Regions from separate parts of the Homo sapiens genome. Here region 2 is linked to region 1. A link means that fine-mapping ties the variant in region 1 to the expression of a gene that starts in the linked region. Tissue or cell type: spleen. Region 1 holds a variant in brackets; the other region holds the start of a gene. All regions are shown on one strand. Distances are from middle to middle.

What was found. PIP is the estimated chance that this variant, and not a neighbour inherited with it, causes the effect.
Region 2: it holds the start of MELTF, and the variant in region 1 is fine-mapped to the expression of MELTF in spleen (GTEx, PIP 0.97).

What each region holds. Positions count from the first base shown.
Region 1 is chr3:196,991,819-196,996,960 of GRCh38, reverse strand. It overlaps the pseudogene RPSAP30. Among named protein-coding and RNA genes, the nearest start is that of MELTF-AS1, 8.5 kb to the left of the region's middle. The variant G/A (reference allele first, on the strand shown) is at 2,437.
Region 2 is chr3:197,026,794-197,031,935 of GRCh38, reverse strand. MELTF (melanotransferrin) reads left to right here and starts at 2,119. Exons shown (of 16, transcript NM_005929.6): 1 at 2,119-2,282; 2 at 4,026-4,180. The coding sequence starts at 2,234. RefSeq lists enhancers at 104-398, 1-702, 1,090-1,726, 1,727-2,363 and silencers at 1,897-2,386, 2,437-2,486, 2,677-2,856.

The sequences.
Region 1 (5,142 bases):
CCCGTCTCCCTCTTCCTGCCCGGAAAGTGGACAGGATCGCTGGAAAATGGAGCAAGAAGCACAAGGAAAAGGACCGCATGGTCAGGACAGCAGAGCAAAGAGACAAAAGCGTTCGGCTCAGGTGGCAGCACCCAGGCCTGGAACAGTCTAGACTCCCTGACAGCTGATTCCTGTCTTCTCTTGTTTCAGCTGGCTGCATTCTGAATTGATATAAGTGGTAACAGTGGAAAGAGCCCGAGATGGGCCCTTGGGGCTCCCAGGCTCTTGTCTTGGCTTTGTGTGGCTCAGGGAAAGTCACGGCCGCTCTGTGGGCCCTGTTCCTTCATCTGTGGGGTGACCCAGAAGGCCTCCAGGGTCTCCTTAGGCCCTTCTGTAGCTCAGATTCAAGAACCAGAGCTGGTCCCAGCTGAAAGTTCCCGAGATGGGCATGAGTGGAGGGTTTCAGGGATGGGGCAGGAAGTCACCTTGTGAACAGGTGACACCTGGGGTTGGGGGTCTTCTCAGTGTTCAGCCAAAAGGAACCCTTGAAGCACAGGATTTGAGGGGTCTGCAATATTCAGTCCAGTTGTTGGAAGCATTTTAACATCCCAAAGGGGAATTGTTTCTAAGTATCTCTTTGACTTCGACCTTCGGATTCACATTTGTCCCTGGAAGAAGCCCCAGGGGATCTCTGCAGACCCGTTCCCGGCCCCACACGTTTTGTAAGTTAGGTGGGATGGCCGGTTGGAGCTGCCTCAAGAGAGAAGCCTGAGGCCCTTTTAACTGGTGGCAACCAGGTCATGAGGCAACCTCTGTGATGTGTGGGCCAGCTTAGGCCTGTGTCACGTGGCAGAGCCCTGGTTCTGGGGGCAGAGCCATCCCCTCCAGAGTACAAGGTCTGAGACTGGGGAAGAGGAAAGAGCAGGGTACTGTCAGTAAAGAATGAAACAATAGAAAATAGATGCAGGCTGCCCCAAACCACACCATCCTCCACCCTGGCCCAGCCACAGCCCTATCCTGGTGTGGATTCCTTACAGCACCTGTCGGTTCTGTGAGCTTTCTAGGGAGGCGGGAGGGAGGGGGCCTACTGTCTCAGAGGCAGAATGCACCAAAAGCACTTTTCAAAGGCCATCTGTGGGCAGAGGCACTAACTGGAGACTGCAACAGATGTTTTCATGATCGAGCTAGTGTGAGTCGGCTCAGAACAGTCACCCTCCACAGAGGCACCTGTGAGCCTCCGTTAAAGAGGACGATTGGCCACATTCCACCACGAAGCCTCTGGGATTCTGCCTGCTCCCTCCTTCTCTTCCTGCCCTCTTTGGAAGGCCTCCTCCAGACTCCAAGCCCAGCCTGTGATGGAATCACCGTAGCCCCAGTAAACCAATCTGTGACCGTGGGACACACTGCAGGGGTGGAGAGGAAAGCTTGCCTTTGAAAACAGTAAAATACATTCACCTATGTCTCTTCCCTTGGCAAAAAACTGTGTGTGTGTGTGTGTGTGTGTGTATGTGCATGCACCTGCATGTGTGTGTGCGTGTGTGTCTGCATGTCTGCGTGTCTGCATATATGTGTCTGTGTGCTGTATGTGTGCGCGCATGTGTGTGTGCGCATGTCTGTGTGTGTCTGTGTCTGCGTGTGTCTCTGTGTGTGTATGTGTGTCTCTGTGTCTGTATGTGCGCGTGTGTGCATGTCTGTGTGTGCATGTGTCTGTGTGCGTGTCTATGTGCGTGTGTGTCTGTGTCTGTGTGTCTATGTGCATGTGTGTGCATGTGTGCATGTGCATGTGTGTGCATGTGTGCATGTGCATTTGTGTGTGTGCATGTGCGTCTGTGTACGTGTGTCTGTGTGTGTCTGTGCTTGTGTGTGCACGTGTCTGCGTGTTTGCGCGTGTTTGTGCATGTGTGTCTGTGCATGTCTCTGTGCATGTGTGCGTGTGCGTGCGTGTGCGTGCGTGTCTGTGTGCGTCTGTGTGTCTGTGTGTGCGTGTGCGTGTGTGTCTGTGTGCGTGTCTGTGTGCGTGTGTGTCTGTGTGCGTGTGTGTCTGTGTGCGTGTGCGTGTGTGTCTGTGTGTGCGTGTGTCTGTGTGTGCGTGCGCGTGTGTGTGTCTGTGTTAGGGGCAGGGGAGTTGCAGTTTCACTGCAAGGCATAGTTTTAAGAAAGGGAGGCTGACTACAAATGTGTACACAATGGTGGATACATGTCGTTATGGATACATGAATCCAAATCCACGGAGGGACAACTGTGGGCCCTGAGTGACAACGCTGTGTAAAGGAAGGGCTGTGAATTGTGACACACGCACCACTCTGAAGGATGTAGTGAGAGCTGTGCCTGTGTAGGGGCGGGAGGTAGATGGAAAAATCTCTGTACCTTCTGCCCAACTGGCCTGCTCTTTAAACTGCTCGTAAATATAAAGTAAGTCTGTGTTTTTTTAAAAGGCCTCACCCGGCCAATATATAG[G/A]CCACAGTCTGATAATGGAGAAACTACCCCCATCGCCTCCCAACCCCCTTTCTTATTATCCACCCCTGACCAAGTGCATGAGAATTGTCACCCCTATGGTCATCTGGCTGTGGGTCTCTCCCCTTCCAACTGTGAGCTTGACTTCTTCGATCCCACCGTCTCAGTTCCTGTGCTGGGGCCTGCAGAGAAGCAGCGGCACTAGGCCAAGCCTTCCTTCCCACCGGGATGCCCTCGGCCTCCCAGCCGCCTTCGGCCCGAGTTTCTTTAGCCCACTTGCCTCCTGGAGGAAAAGCCGAGCCCCCTGCAGAGCTGCAGGCCGTCCTCAGGCCCCCCAGACTCCAGCAGGAAGCCGAGCAGACTGTCATGGGGACGACTAGTCACGACTTTAGATATGGACTCGGGGCAAGAGCCCCTCTCTGCCTCTCACACAGAACTTCCCGAGGAGAAAGCTGTCTCCTCGTGTGTGTGATTCTGCTGCCCTGGCCCCTTGGGGAGGAGCCCTGGATTTCCTGAAAATGAGGATCTGCCATTGCAATGAGGCAGCACAGTACCCCTGCTTGCTGTAGGGATTGTTCTTGAAGACCAACCTGCTGAAATGGACCTAAGACAGCAGCTGGACAAATGGCCAAGACAGAGGTGTCATCGTGCCCGTGCCTCAGTTTTTTGTAATAAGAGACATACTGGAAACAGCCTAAATGCCCAGTATTAGGTTGGGTAAATGAAACACGGTTCATACCTTCATTCCCAGTGGAATGCAATGGATGATGGTCTACAGCTGTTAAATGAAGGGTGCAGCTACATTTACCGATGTGGAAAGAGTTCCACGGCATATTGTTGAGTAAAAAGAGCAGGTTATGAAACAGTATATAATCCCATTATCATAAAATCTCACATACAAACTCACACGCACACTCACACACACAGAGCTGTCTGGAAATCTGTTCACCAAACTGTTAACGGTGACTAGCTCCAGTTGGTGGAATTTAAGGGGTAATTTTTACTTTCTTTAAACTTTATTTTAGTTTCTTTAACTCTTTGTTTTGAATTTTAAAGCCTTTTAAATATCTAATCAATATCATTTTGGAATGAATAAATAAGCAAGCAAATACAAAGTAAAAGAGCTGGGCACAGTGGCTCACGCCTATAATCCCAGCACTTTGGGAGGCCAAGGCAGGTGGATCATCTGAGGTCAGGAGTTCAAGACCAGCCTGGCCAACATGGCAAAACCCTGTCTCTACTAAGAATACAAAAACTAGCCGGGTGCGGTAGCGGGCACCTATAATCCCAGCTACTCAGGAGGCTGAGGCAGGAGAATCGCTTGAACCCGGGAGGCAGAGGTTGCAGTGAGCCGAGATTGCGCCACCGCACTCCAGCCTGGGCGACTTAGCAAGACTCCATCTCAAAAACAACAACAACAACAAAAAGTAAAAGTAAAACTTCCACTGTCCCAAGCACAGTCCCAATGTCACCTCTCAACTCTGAACAACGCAGGTGGCCTCAATGAGGAGGCTGAGGAGGCTGCGGAAGGAGCTGCAGCTTGGGGCTACTCAGTCCTGGATGTGGACGTGGGGGATGTGGCCCTGTGACCAGCTGTGTGGCCTTCAAGCTGTCGCTTAGCCCTTCAGAGCCTCCACGTCTTCCCTGAGTGCCTGCCTGTGGGCTGGCTGGGAGGGGATGCAGGGAGGCACCCACAGCCCAGAGGCTCCTCAGGGCTCCACAGCCCACAAACGTGTGCCTGAGCAACGTCCTCTCCAGCTTCCCCAACTGCTAATGGTCCTGAGTGCACACTCCTGCCAGGCTGGGGCAGACGCAGGAGGAAGAAAGGGAAGTCTAGGAGACAAGGGCATCCTGAGGAAAGTAGACGAAAATCCAGGCCCAGCTGGGTCAGCGACAGGTGCCCTAGCATCAGAACCTGGGAGGGCTCGGGGGAGGAAGGGGAGGGCCTGAGCCCAGGATGAAACAGGCCGCTTCGGGCAGCGTGGGCCCCAGAAGATCTCCTCCAGCCTCCTCCATCCACTACCCTTCGCTTATTCACACTGTTGGCTCCAGGGCGCTCCCATCCCGCCCAAACCCCTCTCCCTAGTTCTCGGGCTTGTGTAGGATGCTAGAGCTGGAAGGGACCGCGGTGAATCAGCTTGGCCAATCAGCTCGCCTCACCCCCTCACAGTTCAGGAAACCAAAGCGTTTAGGAGACAGGGCTTCCTGCTGATGAGGACGCAGCCATCACAGCTCCGGACTTGAACCCAGGGTCTGGTTCCCGGCTGTGGCGTAACAGGACACAGTGTGCGGGACCAGCCTCCATCAGCACATCCCTCCCACCAGCTCCCCACCCGCTCTCCGCCGGGCGAGTGGGAACAGCTGTGCCACAGCCATGTGCCTGGTCCTGCTTGCCAGCTGGCCGGCAGGGGACGCAGCACCAAGATCCCATTTTAGAGTCTGTTCCTAGGATCCTTCCTGGCACCAACTGTCACAGGTTGGGTTCCCAGGAAAACACTCGAGGACGGAGATTTGTGTGCAGGCTTCTCAGGGAGTGCTCTCACAAACAGTGCCTGCCAGGGGGTAAGAAGCCACGGGACGGGCAGAGAGAGGAGTGAGTGCCATGCAGTAGCCAGGAAGGCCCCGGCTGGTGAACCTTCCGAGTTATCTTGCCTTGAGGCAAGAGGGCCTGGCCTTTCTATCCCTACGGCAGCCCTCATGGACACAGGT
Region 2 (5,142 bases), 35 kb before region 1:
ACCAAACTAACCTCAGCTTCTGCTCCTCCAGAAGGCTGTTTGTGGGTTAAACTACTGGCTTATTACTCTCTCATTACATCCCACCCATTTCTCTGGCACACCCAAGTATGTCCGGACCCCAGAAATGGCAGAATCCTGGCTCAAGCTGAGGCAGACTTCCCCATTCCACAAAGGTGATGCGCGTTCATGCCAACCCTGGGCCAACGGGCCCGATGTAGAATCCCTGAGAACCCAGAGGCAGCAAGTTCACTGATGAGTCACAGCTGAATGACACCCAAGAGATAAGGGAAGAACTTCATTGTGAAAGAGCCCAGCAAACCTCTTAGGTTATGGTTGTTCTCACTCCCTATCAGCGTCACGTGGAGTTTTGCCAAAGGAAGGACTTAGTCATCAAACAGATCCTGCCAGTCATCTGGTGGCTCCTGGAGTGTGCCAACTGAGCCTTTCTATCCTCGTGGTCAGGAGAACGAGGCTTGTTAAGGACTCTTCTATTTATTCCATCTTCTTAGGACAAGCCATCAGCCCCTCTAGCAAGGCTGCCTGCTAGTCCATTCGGCACCTTTGTGCAAACTAGGAAGAAGGGATCCATCTGGGGGGATGGAGAAACAGCTTCCACAGCACAAGTCCTCCAGAGCAGACAGGAGACGGAAAGTATGGCACGTCACGGCCATCATGACCTACCTTTTACATGTGGGGAACAAGCCCAGAGAGGGCGACGAACTCGCCCAGGGTCTGTAAGTCGCTGGTTTTTAAAAAGTAGAGCTCGAGTCTCCTGAAGCCCAGCCCATGTTCCTTCCCCTGATCCAGTGTGTGATAAGCAGTAGCTTCATGGCCCCATAGGAGGGAGGCCTTCCTTCCCCAGGGCGCAGAGCAAGCTCAAGGACAGACAAACTCAGAGGGATGTCTTCTCTCTCACTGTTGTACTTACCCATGTCAGAGAGAGACATCATTTCTGAGTCTCAGAGGGGCTGATGACATAAAGGTGAGGCCTAAATGGAGGCAGGTGACTAACAATGTCTTCAGTTCATTCCCCGCATCCCCAACCACATGGGGAGTGCCGCTTTTGCCCGCCTGCGACAGTGGTTCTCAACATTTGCTGTGCCCCGAAATAAAAACAGATTGTGGGCCCCGCCCCCAGAGCTGTCGATCCAGTGGGTCGGAGGTGGGGCCTGAGCACTTGCATTTCCAGCAAGTTCCAGGGTGATGCTCACGTTGCTGGCCTAGGGACCACACTGAGAACCACTGTCCTAGAAATACGGTCAACCCACCCTTTCCTCCCTCACCTTCTTCACTCTCTTCCTCCCCTTCTCCGCCTGTTTCTCCTTTTCCGCTTCCTCCAATTCCTCTCTGGTCCTCTTCTCACCTTCCAATCAGCTGGCTCTGCCACTGACTGGATGCCTGACTCGGGCAAGTCACCTCCCGTCTCTAGGCCCGAGGAGAGGCAGTCGGCTAGGCCGAGATGCCCCTGCCCGGCTCCCCCCTCGCCAGGGCGCTCGGCCTGGGCTCCCCCGTATCCCAGATCCTCTGTGCAGCTGTGGCCGAGATGCCCCTGCCCGGCTCCCCCCTCGCCAGGGCGCTCGGCCTGGGCTCCCCCGTATCCCAGATCCTCTGTGCAGCTGTGGCCGAGATGCCCCTGCCCGGCTCCCCCCTCGCCAGGGCGCTCGGCCTGGGCTCCCCCGTATCCCAGATCCTCTGTGCAGCTGTGGCCGAGATGCCCCTGCCCGGCTCCCCCCTCGCCAGGGCGCTCGGCCTGGGCTCCCCCGTATCCCAGATCCTCTGTGCAGCTGTGCTGGGAGGGAGCTGCTGCGTGAATGAGATCATCCTCCAGCTGCCCTCCAGCCCCGACTCTGGGATTCTGACCTCTCCTTCCTTCCACGTCTGAGCTTTTCTCTCTCCAGTTAGACACGGTATCTGGAGTCTTTCTAGGGCGCGAGGAGGGGAGGATACCCTGGAACGCGGGGTAGGAGGCTGAGGCGAGAGCCCCGAGCAGCGGCGCCCGGGCCCGAGCGGGAGGCCTCCAGCAGGGGGCGCGCCGGGGCCGCCCAGGGGCGGGGTCCGGGGTCGGCGGGAGGTGACCTGCGCCCCAGGGGCGTGGATTCCGCCCGGGAACTCGCGGCCGCACTTAAGGAGCTCGGGCCAGCGCGAGGGGGAGCAGGGAGGAAGCCCGGCTGCTGCGGACCTCCTCGGACCCGGACCCAGCCCCAGCCCGGCCCCAGCCAGCCCCGACGGCGCCATGCGGGGTCCGAGCGGGGCTCTGTGGCTGCTCCTGGCTCTGCGCACCGGTGAGGCCCCGCTGTGAGAGCCAAAGGCGGGCGGGGGTCCCGGGGCGCCGCGGCCCGGCTGAGCAGGTCCCGGGGCTGGAAATGTGCCTGAGCCTGCGGCTCCGGGGCAGTGAGACGGGGGAGGCAGGGGCTCGGGGTCGAGTGAGGACGGCGGAGGGAACTAGCACTGAAGCGCAGACGGGGAAGTCTGGAAGGCTTCTTGGAGGAGGCGGCCTCGAACACCCGAGGCTTCCGACGCTCCAAGGAGAAGCGCGGGCTGAGGCGTGGTGGGGAGGCCTCGGGGTGTGGAGAGGAGCTCCCGGAGGGCGGCCCCTCCCGACGGGCGCAGGAACTCAGGAAGACTTTGGGGGCTCGGAGCAGCTCTTTCTCCCGAGCCCCCGCGGGAGAAGATTCAGAGGGACTGACCGGCAGGCGCGGGAGTCCGCCCGGGGGTTTCTGGCACATGCAGGGATGGAGGTGGAGACGGAGGCCGGGTCCCCTCGCGTCGGCGCCCCGGGGAGTCAGGGCCCGGGATGGTGGGACGGGAGGCGGGACCTCGGGGAGCGGCTCGCGGGGATCGCGGGCGGCGACCGCCGAGGGGATGGAGTTCGTGGCACCGCTGTGGCCGCAGGCGACGCACTCATCAATGCAAACGATGAAGCCACCGCCACCCCCGCCCCGTCTGAACTTTGCAGTTTCCCGCCTGGGTGGTGGGGGGCTTGGAGCGCTGCGGAGGGGAGGGCAGTTCGACTTCCCAGGCCTCCGCCAGGAGTGGGGAGGGGAGGGCTGTGGCGGAAGCTTCAGTCTCGGCCCTTGGGCTGGTGGGGCTGCCACGGGAGGGTGACCTGGTTTCGGGCGGAGTCATGCGTTTCCCTCCCTCCTGCACAGGCCTCTGGCAGTGCTGGCTGGGGCAGGGTGAATGGCAGAGGAGCTCAGGCCTGAAAGTCATCGGCCCCAAGGGGCTCCAGCACCCCTTCCTCTGGGCCCCTAGCCTGGGAGCTCTCGGGGACTCTGACCCGGTCAGATCCTGAGGCATAAGCAGAAGTCCACTGAGGATGTGGGTGTCTCAGGCTCTCTACAAGGGGGTTTACTTTCAACACAGAAGGTGGGGTTTTTATCTGCTCTCTCAGAAGATGAAGCAGGCTCAGAGAGGCTTGAACCTACCCTGATGGGTCCTCAGCCTCCCCTCTGTGCCTGCCGTCTTCCCTTGGCAGGGCCTGGCACTGTGCCCACCGAGGGTGGCTTTGCAGCCAGCATCATCGCAGACACTCCCCGAGGGGACAGGGCTCCTGGAGGGCAGCCCACCCACAGCCCCCTCACCTCACTCTCCCGTCCCAGTTCATGAGGAAGGCCCAGGGACACTGCTGGGTGAGGGAACCTACACGAGCACCCTCTTCGGGAGGCCTGGAGAGGGGAAGAAGCTTCCACTTCCAGGGCCTGCCGAGACTCCCTAGCCAGTGCTCCCACCAGGTGGGGGTAGCTGAGAAGCGACCTGTAGACCCTCCCATTCCTCCATAAAGGGCCGGGTTCTGAGCCATTCCATTTGCCAGCAGCCGTGCTCCTGGTCAGAGAGGCCCTGAGCACAGGAATACCAGCCCTTCCCCTGTCTCTGCGCCTAGTGCCTCCCTGTGGGAGGGCAGGGCTGCCCTAGAGGACTGGCTGTCCAGGCGAATGGGCTCACACAGAACTGCTGGAGCCACCCTCCATGGTGGGCCGGGGCTGGGCAGGGCGGGGGAGCCGGGCCTCACGGTCCCCTGCCCGCAGTGCTCGGTGGCATGGAGGTGCGGTGGTGCGCCACCTCGGACCCAGAGCAGCACAAGTGCGGCAACATGAGCGAGGCCTTCCGGGAAGCGGGCATCCAGCCCTCCCTCCTCTGCGTCCGGGGCACCTCCGCCGACCACTGCGTCCAGCTCATCGCGGTGAGTCCTCTCCCTTCCACCCTGCCAGACAAGAGGGCTGTGACTCAGGAGGGAGCACACAACAGCCCCATTCACCAGGAAAGGAGCCGACCTCGCCCTGCCAGGCCCGGCCGATAGGATCTCCCGAGTCTCCCTGGCCACGAGGCCAGCTTGCCTCCCGCCGGGCCCAGGCCAGGAGGTGGGAGCCTCAGGAGGACCCGCTGCTCAGAGGGCGCCAGCAAAGAAAGGCACCTGAGAGGCTTCCCTTCCACAAGGCCCCTGCCAAGGGGGCCCAGATGGTGGCGGCCCCTCAGTGGCCGCAGGCGGTTACTTGCTCATCTTGCCATGGGGCTCTCCAGAATGGGGCTTGTGTGGTTTCTGGGGAAGGAGGAGCAGGGGCTGGACTCCCAGGTGGGTGAGCATGGGGTAGGAGAGCAGGTCTGCTGAGAACTGCTAAATGACACTGACAATCCTCCGAGGCACCACCAGAGAGTGGCGTCCCTCCTGGGTGGGTGCAAAGAAAGCTGGCTTTTCATTCCAGCTCTGCCCCCCATATGCCCCCAAGACCTAATCCAATCACAGGCCCACACTGGGGCCAAGGCTGTGGGTCAGGCTCCATGTGAGGGCAGAAACCCCAAGCACAGACCACCTTAGAGAAAAAAAGCTAGAAAACCTAGGGTAGCAGTAGAGGCGCAGGGTGGAGGGACAGAAAGCGAGGGAGACTCACTTGTCACTGCGCACCGTTTTCTGCTATCTGATTTTTTTACTATGATATCTGAGTCCTGCAAAATCAATGATTAGTATTTTTTTTTTAACATTATTAGGAAAACAAGGTGAATCCCTGGCCTGGGAAAGGGGGAGAGCCCTGGGCTCTGGTTGGGCTCCTGGGACAGATGAGAAGGACAGCACAGCCCTCTGGGGCTTGGGGTGGGGCCCCAGGCCATCTGGTAGGTGTCCCGAGTTCTTTGCTGAGCAGGCCAGCT